5 linked regions of the Homo sapiens genome follow. The protein of the gene in region 5 purifies or fractionates together with the protein of the main gene of each other region. This does not show direct contact. Each region holds a gene or a part of one and is shown on either strand. Other genes may lie near its edges. The genes, in order: GOLPH3, LNPEP, KCNAB2, SERPINA12 and EPHX4.

Region 1 (2,575 bases), on a different chromosome or scaffold from region 5:
CGTAATAGCCCTATGAGCTTGATAAATTTGTTACTTTCACTTTATAGATGAGTAAATGGAGAAATAGATTAAGATGACTTGCACTAGGACACTAGGGTTTTTTTGGTTTTGTTTTTTGGGGGTTTTTTTGTTTTTGTTTTTGAGACAGTCTTGTGCTTGTCACCCAGGCTAGAGTGCAGTGGTGCAATCTCGGCTCACTGCAACCTCCGCCTCCCGGGTTCAAGCGATTCTCCTGCCTCAGCCTCCCGAGTAGCTGGGATTACAGCCACCTGCTACCATGCCTGGCTAATTTTTGTATTTTTAGTAGAGACAGGGTTTCACCATCTTGGCTTCCCAAAGTGCTGGGATTACAAGCGTAACCCGCCATGCCTGGCCCCGGCTAACTTTTGTATTTTTTGTAGAGACGGGATTTCACCATGTTGCCCAGGCTGGGACTGTTTCTGTTGACTCCCCCCTTACCCCTAGTTTTAGGTCACTTTTTTGCTGCTTTGCAAGTTTAGTGATTTTTTTTTTTTTTTAACTTCGATGCTGGACAGTGTGAATGTTAAGTGATGAATTTTATGGTCTTTCTTTAAAGAGTGTTGAATTTTGTCTTGGTAGGCAGCTAAGTTACTTGTGGATCAACTTGTTTTTAATTTTTTGTTTTTGTTTTTAAATTGTGAGATGGAGTTTCACTCTTGTTGCCTAGGTTGGAGAGCAATGGCACGATCTCGGCTCACTGCAACCTCTGCCCTCCCCCGGTTTAAATGATTCTCCTGCCTCAGCCGTCCGAGTAGCTGAGATTACAGGCAACTGCCACGATGCCCGGCTAATTTTTTGCAGTTGTAGAAGAGATGGGGTTTCACCATGTTGGCCAGGCTAGTCTCGAACTCCTGACCTCAGGTGATCCACCCGTCTGGGCTACCCACAGTGCTGGGATTACAGGTTTGAGCCACCGCGCCTGGCCGCTTTTAATCTTTATTAGGGCATGTCTAGGGTGGTCTATACTCTAGGACTGGTTTAGCCCTACTACTAAGATGTGAATTTTCTAGTATTCCTTCTGAATGTCCTGGTTTTTAGTGAGGCTTTTGCTCTCTGGCTAGTTGGCAATCACATTTTTCCCAGCTCTACTGAACTCTTAGAATTGTTCACTTTCTGGTAGGTGTTCTTTGCCTAGCTTTGTGGAATTTCTCACCCTAACACATGTAGCTTTAGCTTTCAGCCCAAGACTCAAGGAACACCTTGCAGATTTCTAGACCTCTTTATCTGTGTAGGTCCCCCTTCTCCAGTAGTCTGCTTTGCACACTGCAGCTGCCTTAGCTACCCTGAACTCTGATCTCTGCTGCCTTAACGTGATGGGACTGCTGTGCTCTGCTTGGGTTCTTCCTGCCTGCTCTGCTGCCTGGGACGTGCCTCTAGGTGGTAAGCTTAGGCAGTTGTCAGGCTCACATAGGCTGCACTCAAGTGTCACAGTTCTGGGCTGCTTTTGACTAGTGTCTGAAAACAGTTTTTTCGTATATTTTATGGAGATTTCTAATTACAATGAGAGGGCAGCTTTAGGAATGATTACTTCATCATAGGCCTATGTTGTTTAGTATTAAGTATAGGAAAATAATTGTGTCTCTGTCCAGTTGAATGGTAATATATTTTAAGACAGCAACTTAAAATTTTAAGATAGTCCGCTAGAACTTTCTTTGATGATGAAAATGTTCTGTTCCTGTGGGGTGTAGCCACTGGCCATACGTCACTATTGTATACGTGAAATGTGGCTAGTGCCACTGAAGAGATGAATTTTTAAATTAATTTAAATAGCTCTATGTGGGTAATGGCTCCTGTAATGGACAGTGTGGCTGAAGGTTTTCTCTCAGTATTAGAAAATCTCGACCTTACAACGTTTGCATTTAAAAAAGATGCCTGTGGTTGATCTTTAACATATTCTAATTTAGAAAAATATAGTTTTTTTAAGTATAAAAATAGTTGCATGTTCATTGGAGATCATTTGGAAAATGCAGAAAGCACAAAAAAAGTTGAGCACACATAATCCCAAAGATAAGTAAGATTAATATTTTGGTGTATTTCCTTCCAGTTTTCTATAAAGAAGAACCCACTTTAGTGAAAAATCGTTTGGTTTTATTTTAAATATTTCTCTCTCAAAAGGAAATATGTATGGATGGCAAGGTTAAAATTGTGAAAATTTGTATCCTTCCAGAATTAGCTTTATATTGTTATCAAATAATAGCATGGCCTAAACAGGCTTTCCTACCTCTATAGGCTGTATATGTGTAGCAGTTTCAGGAATAACATATTAATCAGGAAGCTTTTTTTTTTAGTCTATTAGTTGCAGACTGGTGTTTAATAGAAAACTTATTTGGCTATTGGCTGCTTTTTGACTTCAGCTGGAAGGAAGCTCAAACATAATATTTGGCTCATTTCCACATAAGACTAAGGGTTACTGACTCTGGTCTGAAGACTGCTTGCAGTTTAGTCGTCTGAGTGACTCCTGTGGCTGAGGATGTGCTGGGTGCTTAGAATCCAAAGGTCTGGCTAGGCTTAAGGGGTTCATGGTCTAGTTAGGGAGAAAAACATGGCAGATTTT
Region 2 (3,523 bases), on a different chromosome or scaffold from region 5:
TTCTTTTAGACCTGGGCTGGTAAGAAGTGCTGAAGATGTTTTTTAGAGATTTGTGGTATGACAAATTCCACTGGGGTTTCTGACCTTCTCAGTCATGCTTGTCTTGGGGTCACCACTCCTTGGCCCTCTCCTATGGCACCTGTCCCTCATTCTGCTCAAGCCCCTATGCCTTCCCAACAACTTGCCTTTAGCTCTGGGCAGATGTCTTTGCTTGCACTTGTCACAGAGAACATGAAGGCTCTCTGCTGTTTTGTGCCCATGCACATGCCTCTTCTCTGTCTTTACCTCCTGTCCTCCAGGCTTGGAGGGAGAGCACCTAGCTCCCATCATTTTCTTGTACACTCTCCCTGTCCCTCTGGATGCTACGCCAGCATTTTCCCTCCCCTACTCCTTCACCTCCACATTTTGTCTTTCTTTACTGTTCCTTTCCTGCAGAAATACATGCCCAAGTTGTTCCCATCTTAAACACAGACAAATGAAAAACAAAAGGATTTAAGTTTTGTCTATACCACATTTTCCTTTAGTTTATCCCTATGTTTTTTCCTTGATAAACTACTACATACCTTCAAAGAATAGTCTGCAGTCCTTGTTTTCTTTTGTTAACTTTCCATTTCTTCTTTGGGCCCCTGGAATCAGGCTTCTACTCTCACTATTAAAGTCACTGGTTCCCTGGTTACCAAATGTAAGGGTCTCTCTAGGCCTCATTTTACTTGACCTTTCTAAAATATTTAATGCTGGCCACTTTCATCTTTATGAAAGCTTTAGGTTTCTGGGATGCCACTCCTGATTTTCCTACCTTTGGTCCATTTCTTCTCCTTTGCTGACCTTCTTCCTCTGGCCACCCAGCTCTTAAATGCTGATCCTCCCTGAGTCTCCCTTTCGATAGTCTCATTTATCTGCATGGTTTTAATGACCATATCTGCACAGGTGATTCGGAAACCTGAATCTTCCACCCAGATCACTCTCTTGAGCTCTAAACCCACGTAACATAATCCTTTTAACAATTCTACAAAATAGCACTGTTTCCCACATTTATAGGTGAGGAAATTGAGGCTAAGAAAGGTAACCTGTTTGAAGTCAGTGGAAAAGCCAGGATTTTAACGTCTACCTAAAATCAGGCCTTTAACTCTATTAATCAAACATCTCCACCTGGTTATCTGACAGATATATCCTACACTGAATGCCATCTCATAATCCTGTTCTCCTTCCTTGCCTCAAAAAAAATTAGAAAATGTGAAAGACTATATTCTCAATCTCAGTGAATGACATTCCTTCTTTTCAGTTATACAAGTTGGAATGTAAAGGGAATTGACATAGACTTTTCTCTGTCTCCTACCCTGCAGGTCCATCTAGCCCGAGGTAGTATCAGTTCTTGTGCATCTACCTTTTTGACGTGACTTGTAATCATACCCTCCTCTTTATTCTCACTGCTACTGACATAGTTAAGAACTTTATCTTGACTGTTATTGCCATTATAGTGACAGTCTAACTCACTGCTTCTCACATTATCTGAGCTGAAGAACCAGGGTTTATTGTTTCTGTTTTTTTAATTTTTAATCTGTTGCAGAAATTTTGTAGCATATAAAAAAATTAATTAGAAAAATGAAATGAAAAAAGACATACAAAAATAGCTCAGTTTTATACATTATTAAATTCAATACACATAAAAATTACTCTGTCAAATTGTCATAAAAGTTTTTGGGTACTAATAGTCTATGTATATCCTGTCCCAGATGGGTCACACTTTTGCACATTGGCACTGGTCCACAAACAACATTGAGGAATGCTAGTTCACAGTATCTGATGAAAAGAAATGTCTTCAGTTCTCTTAGATTATAACCACATGGGCCTATGTTATTTAAAACTGAAACATTTCAGTAGAAGGTTCTTTGCTTTGACTTATAGATAGCTTCTATATGTGGATTTAAGAGGTTTTAGAAAATTCCCTGTTTCTTTAGGATCCCTTCTTTCAGTAGGAATAAATCCCATCGAGCAAGGGGTAATCATGTGTTATGTTACAATTTAATGCCAAAATCAAAGTGTACTGACTTAAGAATCAAATCAACATTTTCTTAAATAGGCTTGAAGTACCTTCATGTATCTTCATGGGATACCTGTAATAAAAGTGATTTTCCCTGATTTGATATATTTAACTTGATATGATTGTGCATACAAAAAAAAAACTGTGCTTCTATATTGCACAGTGAAATATAGCAAATGGGTTGATGTGATCTCCATTTCTGAAAGATTAAAATTCTACGTTGGTATTATTCTGACTGGGAGTGAAATAATAAAAGTAAGTTATTTGGATTTAGGCAGGCATCTGACTAAGCCCTTGTCAGAAGATTTGAAATTAATGACATGCAGACAGGAGATACCAAATTGTCAAACTGTAGAATATCTCTTGGCTTTAAATGGCATGGCAGAAGAATAAAAAAACACAGCAACAAAGTTCTAAGGGGACAGAATTGAGAGATTGGAATGCTCTAAATATTAAGCTGAGATTGTACCTGGAGTTAGTTCAGAAATATAGTAAATAAAACCATGCTGTACAGAACCCATTGTTGTCTGCAGTAGGCCTGACACAGAACAAAACACATGGGGCAAATGCCTGAGAGCATAATCTTCCCATGTGTGGTAAAAAAGTCAAAAAAGGCCTTTTTAGACATTTTTAAATTAAAAAAAAAAATTAAGCTAGTCTACAGCAGTGTGCCAGGAACCAAAAAACTACTACAGAAACTTTCTAATCATTAAGAGTTTTAAAAGCAATTTTAAAAAATTGAATACAGCAATATTTGCTCTGTTAATGAAGTGTATGACCCAAAACACTATTAACTATCAAAACAGAACATACTTTTTTTTTTTAACAAGAAATTGGGGCACTATAGGAAGTTTAGGAGATTATATTCCCAAAAGCAGTATGTTAGAACCCTTCTTCTTTCATAGTAGATGGGTAGATGGCAGAATGCTAAACTCATACCTAGAAAATGATTAGAAGTTTTATTCAAATAAAAATTTTAAAGTAGCATAACTTGTATACAGTTCAGGTTGGAGAGGAGTCAGGAAAAGGTAACCTCATTGTGATCCATATGCTCCCCAAAGCAGAAATGGGTGAAGTGAAATGAAAAGAAAGTTTATTTTTTAAAGGTAATAAAGACAAAGGAAAAACAAAAAAACATAACTTTTCTTAATTTGTGTTGTAGCAAGTTAAGCTGAGGTACGGAATACCAGGTGGATGGGCATGGGAAAGGGAGATGATGACACTGCAAGCAGAGGGAAGAGAAAAGAAAAAGAGACATGTGGAGGATAGCGTGGAATAGCTGCCTGGCCTGTGCTCAAAATAGTAAGCAGTTTGGGATGGCCAGAGCATACTCAGGAATGGTATTTAGTGCTGGCTGGGATCTGACCATGGAAGATGCTTATACCAGTGCCTCTCAAACTTAAGTGCACGTGAGCACCCGAGGATTTGTTAAAATTCGTATTCTAGGTGGAGACTTCAGAGGCTGCGTTTCTAACAAGCTGC
Region 3 (3,523 bases), about 86 Mb from region 5:
CTCTGTGTGAGAGATGAGGACGTCGGGGATGAAGGAGGACCCCCCAGGGGCCGGGCTTATCACACCCCTTCTTTCTCTTCTGTTCCACAGGCGGTCCAGCCTCGTCATCACCACCAAGATCTTCTGGGGCGGAAAGTAGGTGCAACAGCTGGCGATGCTTCCAGCCCCGGCCCAGCAGCCACGGCCCCGTGCTCCCCAGAGACCCCTGACCTAGAAGGCTCCTGGGGTGGCGGGAGGACAGTCCTCCTTGAGAAGGGAGAGTGGTCGGGGTCTGTCCTGGACAGGCCCCGGCCCAGTGCCATTTCCTGTCCCCAGCAGGGGCAGAGCTGGTGTTTCTGCAGCCATCAGCTATGCCTGGTGCCTGTCCCTGTTAAGGGACGTCAAATCCAGAAAAGAAGCTGTGGCCGAGTTTGCCTTTTACAAAAACCTCGCTTAACTTTCCTTTTTACTCACATGGATTATTTTTTCCTGGTCACTATGGTAACATCATAAAAATTATAGAGAAAACAGAAAATTTGTGAACTGCCCAAACCCCCAAAGCACTCCAAATTCCCTGGGCCGCCTGTCACCCCTGCAGGTCTCCAAGTGTCTAGCTCCATAGTTTCTGGGCTGGACACACTTGGGCTCATAGGAATTATAACTACGATTCATTCATTCATTCTTTTTTTTATTTTTATTTTGTTTTTATTTTTTATTTTTTTGAGACAGGGTCTCGCTTTGTAATCCAGGTTGGAGCGCAGTGCCACAATCACAGCTCACTGTAGCTTCAAACTCCTGGGCTCGAGCGAGCCTCCCACCTCAGCCTACAGGGATGAGCCACCATGCCTGACTAATTTGTCCTTTTTCTCTCTCTCTCTTTTTTTTTTTTTTTTTGAGACAGGGTCTCACTTTGTCACCCAGGCTGGAGTACAGTGGCGTAGTCCCAGCTCACTGCAGCCTCAACCTCCTGGGTTCAAGTGACCTTCCTGCCTCAAGTAGCTGGTTCTACAGGCACATGCCACCATGCCCAGCTAATTTTTTTATTTTTATTTATATTTTTATTTTTGTATTTTGTAGAGATGGGGTTTCATCATGTTGTCCAGCCTGGTCTCAAACTCCTGAGTTCAAGTAATCTGCCCACCTCAGCTTCCCAAAGCACTAGGATTGCAGGCGTGAGCCACCACGCCTGGCATTAATTTGTCCTTTTTTAAGATATGGGGTCTCACTATGTTGCCCAGGCTGGTCTTGAACTCCTGGGCTCAAGTGATCCTCCTGCCTTAGCCTCCCAAAGTGCTGGGATTACAGGCGTGAGCCACTGTGCCCAGCCTGATGTGTTCTTAATTTAAAAAATAATAATAATAATAATAATAATAATAAGTCCAAATCAAACAGACGGGTTAGGTTGAAAATCAAAGCCCCCCACCCCCTGCTGCTGCCCCCCTCCCCTCTGAGCCCTGTGACCAGGCCTCTCCCTGGGCCTCTGGGAGTTCAGCCCTGTAGCCTCGGGTCCCTACCCCCAAAGTGGAATCCGACTCCACACGGCATTTGCTGACCCTGTTTTTGCGTCTAACATTGCATCGTAAACGTTTTTTGGGAGGGGCCAGGGTGCCAAAACCGCTGGTGACATCACACGCGGTCGGCCTGTTTTCCAGGGCGGAGACGGAGCGGGGCCTGTCCAGGAAGCACATAATCGAAGGTGAGGACGCGCTCGGGCACCTCAGGGCCCCCATACCTGTGGGATCATCCTCGGAGGCCAAAGTGATGGCAGCACAGGGCCCGACCCCCCCAGTTAACCCACTGAGGGCCCAATCCCGGGGCACCCGGTGCTCTGGCCTGACCTTCTCCTTCCACCCAGGTAGCACAGCGGGACGCTGCAGAGAACGAGGGCAGCCCGGTGGCTGAGCACAGACCACAGACCAGCCTGGGTTTCAATCCAGGTTTGGCCCCACACTGGCTGAGTGGGTCTTCAGCAGGGGCACCCTGCCCCATGCCTCTGCCACAGTATCTGTGCAATAGGGACAGTAAGAGCGCACCCGGCGAGGGTGGCTGGGATGCCTGCAGCGCCCAGGAGAAGGTGCCACACAGCCCGGGGCTCAGCACTCGCAGGCACCGGAGCAAGGCACCGGGGTGTCTGGCTCTTGCTGTATCTTTATTGTCTTCATGCCTTTCCTGTCCGTGTTCATTTTCTTCGAGGTAATAGATCATTCCATTGAAAATCACCTGGCGGGGCAAGCCACCCACTCCCATCCTCCCCACCCCAACCCAGCGTTTCACTCTGCCGGCTGTGTGTCCTGAGCTGCTCTAAGCACCAGCGGGTGGCTTGGGCGTTTTAGACACTATTGCCATTGTTTTTGTTTTTGAGATGGAGTTTTGCTCTTGTTGCCCAGGCTGGAGTGCAGCGGCACGATCTTGGCTCACTGCAACCCCCACCTCCTGGGTTCAAGCAATTCTCCTGCCTCAGCCTCCTGAGTAGCTGGGATTACAGGTGCCCACCACCACATCTGGTTAATTTTTTTTGTATTTTTAGTAGACACAGGGTTTCACTATGTTGGCCAGGCTGGTCTCAAACTCCTGGCCCTCAAGTGATGCGCCCGCCTTGGCCCCCCAGAGTGCTGGGATTACAGGCATGGGCCACCACGCCCGACCATAGACACTATTGCCTTTGATGGGACGGGCAGCAGGTGTAGCCCTCCCTCCACATGTGATAGATAAAGTCATCTCCCTGTTGTAATACACAGTGGCCTCAGAGGAGGGTATATTGTCTGAGGGAGGAGGGGCTTCCCCTTCATTTAGTCAAGGACACGTGGCCTGTGGTCCCCCGATGTCCTCCTGAAGGGAAGATCCCCCCACTCCCTGTGGGATGTGCCCCCACCTCTGCCGTGGCATTTCACGACCTCCATCAGCTTCTGGAAGCTTCCAGATGCCAGAGGCCTCTTCTCCATCTCTTGTTCCCTGAGCCGGGCATGGATGGGCCCAGGTGCCTGTGGAGATGGAGCCACAGCAGTGACGCCCCCCCACCTGGTCCTCCCCCAGGTCTGAAAGCTTCCCTGGAGCGACTGCAGCTGGAGTACGTGGATGTGGTGTTTGCCAACCGCCCGGACCCCAACACCCCGATGGAAGGTAGGTGGTCTGCGGCGGCGCCACCGGTTAGGCCTGGGCGGGGTCTGAAGGGTCTGAACCTGGGGTTGTAGAGGCCGCCAGCATGGGCCCTGCTGGGCACCCGGGTGAGCCGTGAGAGGAGGCCGGGTCCAGGGTGGGGGGCGAGGGGGCAGGCCTCCCCTCAGTAGGGGGTGAACTCAGCCTCTGGCTGCAGACCCCTCGCCAGGTGCACCTGGCACCTCCAGGCTGAGTCCCTGTCCTGGCTTTGGACCCAGGCCGATCCGCCCTCCGAGTCAGAGCCGCAGTGGAACTGTCCCCTCCCCTCTGCGGCTGCTATTTTGCAGCTAAGTGAAGTCGCAGTGTGGGGACTCCAACTGCGGTGTTCTCTCCAATCACCATCCATTGGGAAGCTTGGGGGGACTTTTTTGCTCTGGGGGATAAATTA
Region 4 (4,031 bases), on a different chromosome or scaffold from region 5:
GGCACTTAGGTTGGTTCCATATCTTTGAAATTACGCAACATGTGTGTGCATGTGTCTTTTTCATATAATGATTTCTTTTCCTCTGGGTAGATACCCAGTAGTGGGATTGCTGGATGAAATGGTAGCTCTCCTTTTAGTTCCTTAAGGAATCTCCATACTGTTTTCCATAGGGGTTGTAGTAATTTACATTCCCACCAGCAGTGTAAAAGTGTTCCCTTTCACCACATTCATGCCAACATCTATTTTTTTTATTTTTATTTTTTACTTTTTAATTATGGCCATCTTGTAAGAGTAAGGTGGTATCTCATTGTGGTTTTCATTTACATTTCCCTGATGGTTAGTAATGTTGAGCAAATGCTCTTTTTTTATATCCTCTGTTGTTCTGCTCTTCTACCAGCATCTAGATCTGGCTTGAATGACATTTAGCACGGACTTGGGTCTATATTATTTTAAGTGAAATTGATTGACAGCATGACTTCCAATAGTTTGGCTCTCTCAGGCAACCACAGATCCAATGCAGTCTCCTATTGCCCATTGTACAGGTGAGTACACTGAGAACCAGAGGAAGGGATGGCTTCTCCAGCCACCAGGTGCATTATGAGTCACCTATGTCTGGTACCCAGACCACAGGCCCAGGCCCTGAGACGTCCCAGAGCTCGGGAGTGGGGTGGGGTTGGATGGATGGGCTGCCTGCTCCCAGGCTGCACCTGGGAGGTGAGAGAGGGCCATGTGAACATCTGTGCCAGGCGGCTGGTATTCTATAGCAGTGCCAGGGTGCCCACACCCATTCCTGTCCTGTCCCAGGGAAGGAATCTGGGGTGGACGATTCTGCTCAAAGATGATCACAGGGATCAGGGCTGTGGAGCTGGGAGGGGATGGCGTGTGTCACTCTGGTTTCTGGTGCACTCACTTTTATGAGGTTTACTGGGTGCCAAACACTCAGGTCCTAGCAAGCCAGGCCCTCATCAGTGAATCTACAGAGCACCTTGGGTGTACCTAGCACAGTGCCCCTTGCTATTTGGGATGGGAGAGAAAAAGTAGGCCTGATCTTTCCCAAGGGGTGAGGAAGGGAACTCCCAGACGCATTGCTCTCTGAGTGAGACACTTGGCAGGGCCAGTTGGCCAGGCTGATCCTGGGAAAGGGGTGGAGGTGGCAGAGGCAGGCTTAGTAGGTCGTTGGGCAGAAGTCCACCCAGTTTGTAGATAAGGCTTGTGGGGCTGGGAGCCTAGAGGAACATACCTGGAACCTGAAGGCTGCAGGACCAGGACCGAAAAAGGACTAGGAGGCTGGGATCAGCAACAACTGGGGAAGGCCAAGGAAGACTGACCTGAGGGGAAAGGAGAAACTGGGGAGGTGAGGTTAGTCCAAGGGGCAGTGTGTGTGTGTGTGTGTGTGTGTGTGTGTGTGTGTGTGTGTGTGTTGTCTGTTTCTCTGTCTTAGAGAAGACAACCAAGGGCCAAGGTGATCACTCAAATAGACAGACATTCTGCGTCCTTCTCATGCCTAGCCCTAGGGCTGGATCACCAGTCTGGCCAAGAGTTCCATGGGTCTGTGCTGGCTGCCAAGATGCTGTGGCCATGCTTTCATTTATGGTCTACCAGAAAGCTATCCATGGAAAAAGGGATTCAGAACCAGAAGACCTGATTTTTGAGTCCTGAATCTGCTAACTGTGCAGCTATAGGAAACTCAGATTTCTCATGTGTAAAAATGGGTCTAGCAGCACCCAAACTTGCAAAGTTGGTATGAAAAATACATAATGTCTATGAATAACCGTATCTACTAATATGTGCATGGAAGTACCCTGTTCTGCAGAGACAAAGACAAAGAAGAAAATAAGATGAGGAAAATCAAAGCTGGCCCCCACCCACAATGTTTCAATGCATATTTACCCAAATTTTTTACTTTTTGCTGATTGAGAAACACATGTGGTTACTTATTGATATATATAAGAACTCTTAATTGTTAAGAACATTAGCTCTCTATCTTGTACACATGTTCCAATTTGTGATTCCAAATTTTACATATTCTGTAGAGTTTTAACACGTTGCAAAAAGATGGTATATCCATATATGCCATCTTTTCCTACATGGTTTCTGGCTTGTGTATCACACTTAGGAAGTTCTTTTTCACTCTAACATTATGAAAAGGTTTTATTCCAACACTTGTAATTTTATTTTTGAAATGATTTGTTTGTTTCCTAATAGCATTTATGGAATTGTTCACCTTTTCTCGAATGTTCTGAAATGCCATCTTGAATTTTTTACTATTTACAGAATGCTTCCCATTAAAAAAAAATTTTCTAAATTTTCTATTTCTCTCCTTTTATTTCTTACTTGTTTAGATTTTTGTGTGGAAAGATTTTCAACATTTTGTACTAGAAGCTTTTTAGGGTAACCTAGGATCTTACCGGAGATTGCTTAAAAATATTTTCTTTCAAAATCAATTATTATTAATTTTAAATCATTTATTGATTAAGCTCCCCAATTGGAGTTGAATTCAATGACTGAAAATACATTGCATTTACTCAGTCTTTGCCTTATTGCTTGGAGGTACAGTATAATTTGTTCTAGTGGGATTTGGGCTTTGCAGTGTTTCACACTCTTGGTCACTGGCTCCCATAGCTGTCTGTCACAAGCATCAACTGGGGATCCTGTGGAAACCAAAGAAGAGTGGGGACACCCAGGGAAATGCAAAGTATGATCTGGGATGGTGGCCAGGAATCTCTTTCTCTCTCTCCCTTCTCTACTATAAATGGACATCTGGGTTGTTTCCACTTTAGGTCTATCACATAAAGCTGCTATGGACATTGCAGTACATGTCTTGGTAAACCCACAAGCACTCATTTCCTGTTGGGCATATACCCTGAGGTACAATGAATGGGTCAAAGGGTAAGCATATGTTTACCTTTTATAGATCCTGCCAAGCAATTTTCCAATCAACACGTTGGTGTCGGTTTGCACACCCACCCGCAATATAAGAGAGTTCCACTTGCTCCACGTCCTCGTGTGGCTGGTCCTTTTAATCTGAGCTATTCTAGTGGGTGTGTAGTGAGTTCTTCTTGTAGTTTTGTTTTGCATGTTTCTGATGATTAATGATGTCGAGCACCTTTTCAGCTGCTTATTGGCCATTTGGATATCTTCTTTTGTGAAGTATTTGTTCATGTCTTTGCTTAGTTTTTAAGTTGTTGTCTTTTTTCAGTCGATTTGTAGAAGTGCTTAAAAACAGGCATGAGCCTTTTATCAGACACAGACATTACACGTACCACTCCCAGCTTGTGACTTGCCTTTGTACTGTCCTAGGTAATTTTAGAGGAACAAGGCTCTTAATGTTAATGAAGTTCCATTTATCATTTTGTAAAAATGGTTAATACTTTCTGCCTATCTCATGGTCACAAAGATTGTCTACTATTAATATATTTTCTTCTAGAAGCTTTATCATTTTGATTCTTGTGGGTTTTGAGGTTAAAAAATATTAAAGACCAATAGTTTCATATAGTCCAATCTAATACCTTTCACATTTAGGTCTGTGACTTCTCAAATTAATTTTTGTATGTTGAGTAAAATAGTCACTATTTATATTTTTCCTGTATGGACATCCACTGGTGTTTTGTTGTTGTTGTTGTTGTTTTCATCATTCATTGAAAGGATCATCCTTTCCTTTGAACTGTAGCGATGCCCTTGTCACATATCAGGTGACTTCCTGTGTGGCTCTGTTGGATTCTCTAGTCTGTTCCATTGGTCAGCTTGTCTGTCTCTGTTCCAATACCTTAATACTGTGGCTTTACAGCCATCTTGATACCTGGTGGCTGAATGCTTTAAAAGACCTGGGAATCATCAGGTGGGAATCACTTGCTTTGGAGTGGGATTCTCAACCTTGAGTACTCATTAAATCCCCTGGAGAGAAGTTCTTAAAGGCACCCTCACCCAGGATTTATCCTGCATCAACTAACTCAAAATCTCTAGAGGAATGTTCTGAAAATAGGTATTTCTAAAGCTCCTGGATGATTGTAATGCACTCCCAGGATGGAAAC
Region 5 (4,238 bases):
GAGGCGGAGCTTGCAGTGAGCTGAGATGGAGATCGCGCCATTGCACTCCAGTCTAGGCGACAGAGTGAGACTCCGTCTCAAAAAATAAAATAAAAAGAGTACTGAGAGAAATGTATAGGTGCTAAATGATTGCATTAGAAATTGCAAAGGTCTCAATAAGTTCCTAACTCAAGACCCTAGAAAAAAAGAGCAAAATACAGTTAACCCTCAAACAACATGTGTTTGAACTGTGTAGGTCCACTTACACATGGATTTTCTTCCACCTCTTCCCTCCCCCTCACCCCAAGACAGGAAGATCAACCTCCCTTCTTCTTTCTCCTCCTCAGCTTACCTAACCTGATGATGACAAGGATGAACACTCTTAAGATAATCCACTTCCACTTAATGAATAGTAAATGTATTTTCTCTTCCTTATGATTTTAACATTTTTCTTAATTATAAAGATACAGTATGTAATACATAAACATATGTTAATTGTTTTGGTCAGTAGTAGGCTATTAGTACTTAAGTTTGGGGGAACTCAAAAGTTATACATGGATTTTCAGATGTGAAAGGGTTCAGCAACCCTAACCCCCCGCATTGTTCAAAGGTCAATTGTATAACTCACACATGCTGAAGTAAATTCAAAATTGTACAGCCACTTTGGAAACCAGTTTGACAGTTTCTCATAAAAAATGAACACTTAATACCTGACCCGGTGATTGGGAAAAGGCTTAATGAAATTCTAACAGTGAACTGGACGATAGAAGAGGTCAGGACAAGAGTGGCCATGTCGGTGCTGAGGCTGAGATACCTACCGAGGACTGTCACTCTCACGGCTTCCAGCCCTTCGACGAACTCTCAGGTGTGTGGCCTTCTGGCCAGGCTTCTGCCGCGTCACGTTGTTGAAGCATTCGTTGTATCCCTGGGGTTGCAGCTCTCTGTAAGTTTGCTGTGGCTGAACCAGGCAAGGCATAGGCGGATTTCTACAGAAATTATGATTCCACGAAAGATTTTGAGAAGAGGAAGGCTGGTATCTTTCAGAGTGCAGAGTGATTTTGCACTCTAAAGAATCTCTTTGGGTGTAATAGCATGGAAGTTTGTCGCTGACCTGTGTCCCTGAACTATGACACACGAATATGTGGGCTTAGAAATAGTTTTGCTTGATACATTGAGAACAACAAAGAAGACTGAGTGGCGCTACCTTCTTTGGTGCCCAGGATGGTTTGGGAAAGTCTCGCCTTCATCCTCCCCCACAGTTTTGCGATTTTGAAACGGGATCTCGCTCTCCGCGGAAGACAGCCAAGCTCTGCACCCCGGCCTGGCCCGCCGCACCCCGCAGGCCCGGCTCTCCCCTGCGCGCTCCGGGCTGGGCGCGGCGCGTGTGCGGAGCCGCCGCGGTGACACGGAACGCCGGCCGCCCCGGGCCGGGGGAGGCGCGCGTCGAGAGGCGACGGCGGGCTGGCCTGGCGCGCTGCGGCGCTCGCTCACCCGCTCCCGAGGAAGGGCAGTGGGCCCCGCCGCCGCCTCCCAATGGCGAGGCTGCGGGATTGCCTGCCCCGCCTGATGCTCACGCTCCGGTCCCTGCTCTTCTGGTCCCTGGTCTACTGCTACTGCGGGCTCTGCGCCTCCATCCACCTGCTCAAACTTTTGTGGAGCCTCGGCAAGGGGCCGGCGCAGACCTTCCGGCGGCCCGCCCGGGAGCACCCTCCCGCGTGCCTGAGCGACCCCTCCTTGGGCACCCACTGCTACGTGCGGATCAAGGTGAAGGGCCGCGCGGGCCTGGCGGGAGCGGGAGGGAGCGTGACCGCCGCGAGGGTGGGGGGCTCCGGGCTTCTCCTTCCGAGACGCTGGCTCAGCGTCCCCTAGTGTCCTGGCAGGAGGGGAGGAGGGGTTGGGTCCCTGTGTGTCGTGTGTGTGTGTGTGTGTGTGTGTGTGTGAGAGAGAGAGAGAGAGAGAGAGATACAGATAAACAGCACTCGGTCTTTGCAGGCACCTTGATTGGTTTCTGAATGTGGAACTTCTCTAATCAGGGGCCTCTTATATTACTGCCCCCCGGCGCCACAACAACCCAGAATAAACCTGCTCTTTTTCCTACTGCAAGGGGAAGCTGTCTCCTGTCACCCTTTTGCCCTTTAGAGCTCAGATCAGCTGTAGAGAATTGTTCCTCGTGGCATCCTAATGTCTCAGGAGGCTGTTCTTGCCCAATTTTAGAGATAATAAGAGTAAACAGTCAGTCTTTGGGAGTCATGAGTTTATTATGATCACAGACGACTTAGGTTGCATGAAACAATAAGTAAATTGTGTGTGTTGTGGGGAGGAATGCATACTTATGAAGTCAGGGACCAAAGAAAGGAATGGAATAAAAGGTAAATCCAGCCATGCCTGCAGACGCTAATTGTTCAAGCTTCCTCACAGCCCACAAATATTCTGTTTCCTGAGGCTCCAGGTGGTGAAGGGAAATAGTTCCCGTGATACACCCTGCAGTCTGACTCACAGGCCTTTCAAACCCAGCCTCATAAGAGGGGATGTTTATGTCACCAAGTCCTTATTTCCTGTTAGGAGCTAAATTGCCCCGCAGCTGAAGTTCAGAAGGGCAAGAGAACTTCTTTCTTGCCTGGGGTCGACATGAGAATTAAATAGGTTAATATTTATAAAAACAAACACGAAAAACTTAGAACAATGCCTGATGCATAGTCAGTGCAATAAAGTATCTGTTAATTAAATCCATTGCAGTGCCCATAACATTTAATCCTCCAAGACTCACCACCAATAAAAAAAGTTATTGAACCTCTAGGAAGCCATCGTGCAGCTGAGGGTAAAGTCAGATTTGTTATCTCTGTTCAACCTGAGGGGTAAAAGTAGTATAAGAACCATCTGGAATTCCATAAAACACTTTTCCCCTCGCTCTGGCCGCCTAAAGAGCTTCCCCAGAGACAGAGAACCGAGTGGAAAGAGCATTGTCCTGGGAGTTAGGACAAGATGGAGATTCTGGTCACAGCCCTGCTCTCAACCATTTTATGACTCATGTTACCATCTTTGGGCCTCATCTTCTGAATCTGCAAAATGATTCTTTCACATCTGAAAACTCAGTTGCTTGAGTTGCCTGCTATAAAAACCCAATGTCTGTGTTTAGCTTTTGGTTCTTTTTGTTTCCTAGCTTGCTTGCTTTCAGAGATTTTTATTCCTGCTGTTCCCTCTACTTTCCTCAATTCAGCCTGCTTAGTATTTGCTTGAATTCCTGACTCATTCCCATGTTTTTTTAATTTTCCTTGGGTTTTCTTGTCTCCTACATGCAGAGTGAAGTCTTGAGCACTCAGGGCATTCTCTTATTAGAAACGCACACTGACATGACATGAGCAGGCAGCAAGGGGAACAGAACATGCAACACTCAAAATAATAATGTGGGAAGGAGAGACCTAAAAATAAGAGAAGGAGGTGTGAATTATATAACTGATGGCACAGCTCTTGACGGGCAAGCTGAGAAAAGTAGATGACTAGGATGTAAACATGGCAGAAATATAAATTCAGATTAGAATTATTTACATGTCCTGCAGCATTTGAGGGAGATGAAATGTGACACATCAGTAAGATGAAAGTTACAAATGGTAAGATGAAAGTTACAAATTGTGACATTGCTTCAGAAGCTCATAATATATAAATTGACTGTACTAGAACAAGAAGAGAAGGTACTGTCAAGGGAGTGTTGACAAAGTGAATCTGTCAATTTACCCTATTAATAGGTCATGGGGTTTGCTTTTCTTTTTGAAAATTAATAAAAGTAAATATATTTCTTGATGTTAAAAATAAGGCAACTGAGTGTCATGAAGATATTGTAAATACACAAATGTTTTAAAATAAGGCAAGTTACTATTTTTTTAATGAAATGGAAATGCTAAATATATTGCTTTGTCAATCAACACAAACATCACTAAAATTCCATGCCCTCTACTTTCAGGATTCAGGGTTAAGATTTCACTATGTTGCTGCTGGAGAAAGAGGCAAACCACTTATGCTGCTGCTTCATGGATTTCCAGAATTCTGGTAAGCTTACCAACTAACATTTATTGTTACATTAAAACTTGGCTTATTTTCTCAGTTCATTTTGTGCTGCTGTAACAGAATATCACAGTCTGGGTAACTTAAAATGAACATAAATGATTTTCTCAGAGTTCTGGAGGCTGGGAAGTTCAGGATCAAGGTGCCAACATCTGACAAGGGCCTCCTTGCTGCAACATCACATGGCAGAGGAGGAAGGG

What was found.
Region 1: the proteins of EPHX4 (region 5) and GOLPH3 purify together in Homo sapiens (co-immunoprecipitation; one large-scale study listed by IntAct). This does not show direct contact.
Region 2: the proteins of EPHX4 (region 5) and LNPEP purify together in Homo sapiens (co-immunoprecipitation; one large-scale study listed by IntAct). This does not show direct contact.
Region 3: the proteins of EPHX4 (region 5) and KCNAB2 purify together in Homo sapiens (co-immunoprecipitation; one large-scale study listed by IntAct). This does not show direct contact.
Region 4: the proteins of EPHX4 (region 5) and SERPINA12 purify together in Homo sapiens (affinity purification with mass spectrometry; one large-scale study listed by BioGRID and IntAct). This does not show direct contact.

What each region holds. Positions count from the first base shown.
Region 1 is NC_000005.10:32,126,747-32,129,321, reverse strand, and holds part of GOLPH3 (Golgi phosphoprotein 3), read left to right. Parts: intron 1-2,575. UniProt on the Homo sapiens protein: Phosphatidylinositol-4-phosphate-binding protein that links Golgi membranes to the cytoskeleton and may participate in the tensile force required for vesicle budding from the Golgi.
Region 2 is NC_000005.10:96,974,073-96,977,595, forward strand, and holds part of LNPEP (leucyl-cystinyl aminopeptidase), read left to right. Parts: intron 1-3,523. UniProt on the Homo sapiens protein: Release of an N-terminal amino acid, cleaves before cysteine, leucine as well as other amino acids. Degrades peptide hormones such as oxytocin, vasopressin and angiotensin III, and plays a role in maintaining homeostasis during pregnancy.
Region 3 is NC_000001.11:6,087,377-6,090,899, forward strand, and holds part of KCNAB2 (voltage-gated potassium channel subunit beta-2), read left to right. Parts: intron 1-90; coding exon 91-135; intron 136-1,631; coding exon 1,632-1,675; intron 1,676-3,012; coding exon 3,013-3,099; intron 3,100-3,523.
Region 4 is NC_000014.9:94,506,670-94,510,700, reverse strand, and holds the start of SERPINA12 (serpin A12 precursor), read left to right. Parts: upstream 1-1,231; 5' UTR 1,232-1,359; intron 1,360-4,031. UniProt on the Homo sapiens protein: Adipokine that modulates insulin action by specifically inhibiting its target protease KLK7 in white adipose tissues.
Region 5 is NC_000001.11:92,028,568-92,032,805, forward strand, and holds the start of EPHX4 (epoxide hydrolase 4), read left to right. Parts: upstream 1-1,417; 5' UTR 1,418-1,512; coding exon 1,513-1,743; exon of another isoform or gene 1,744-1,820; intron 1,821-3,937; coding exon 3,938-4,023; intron 4,024-4,238.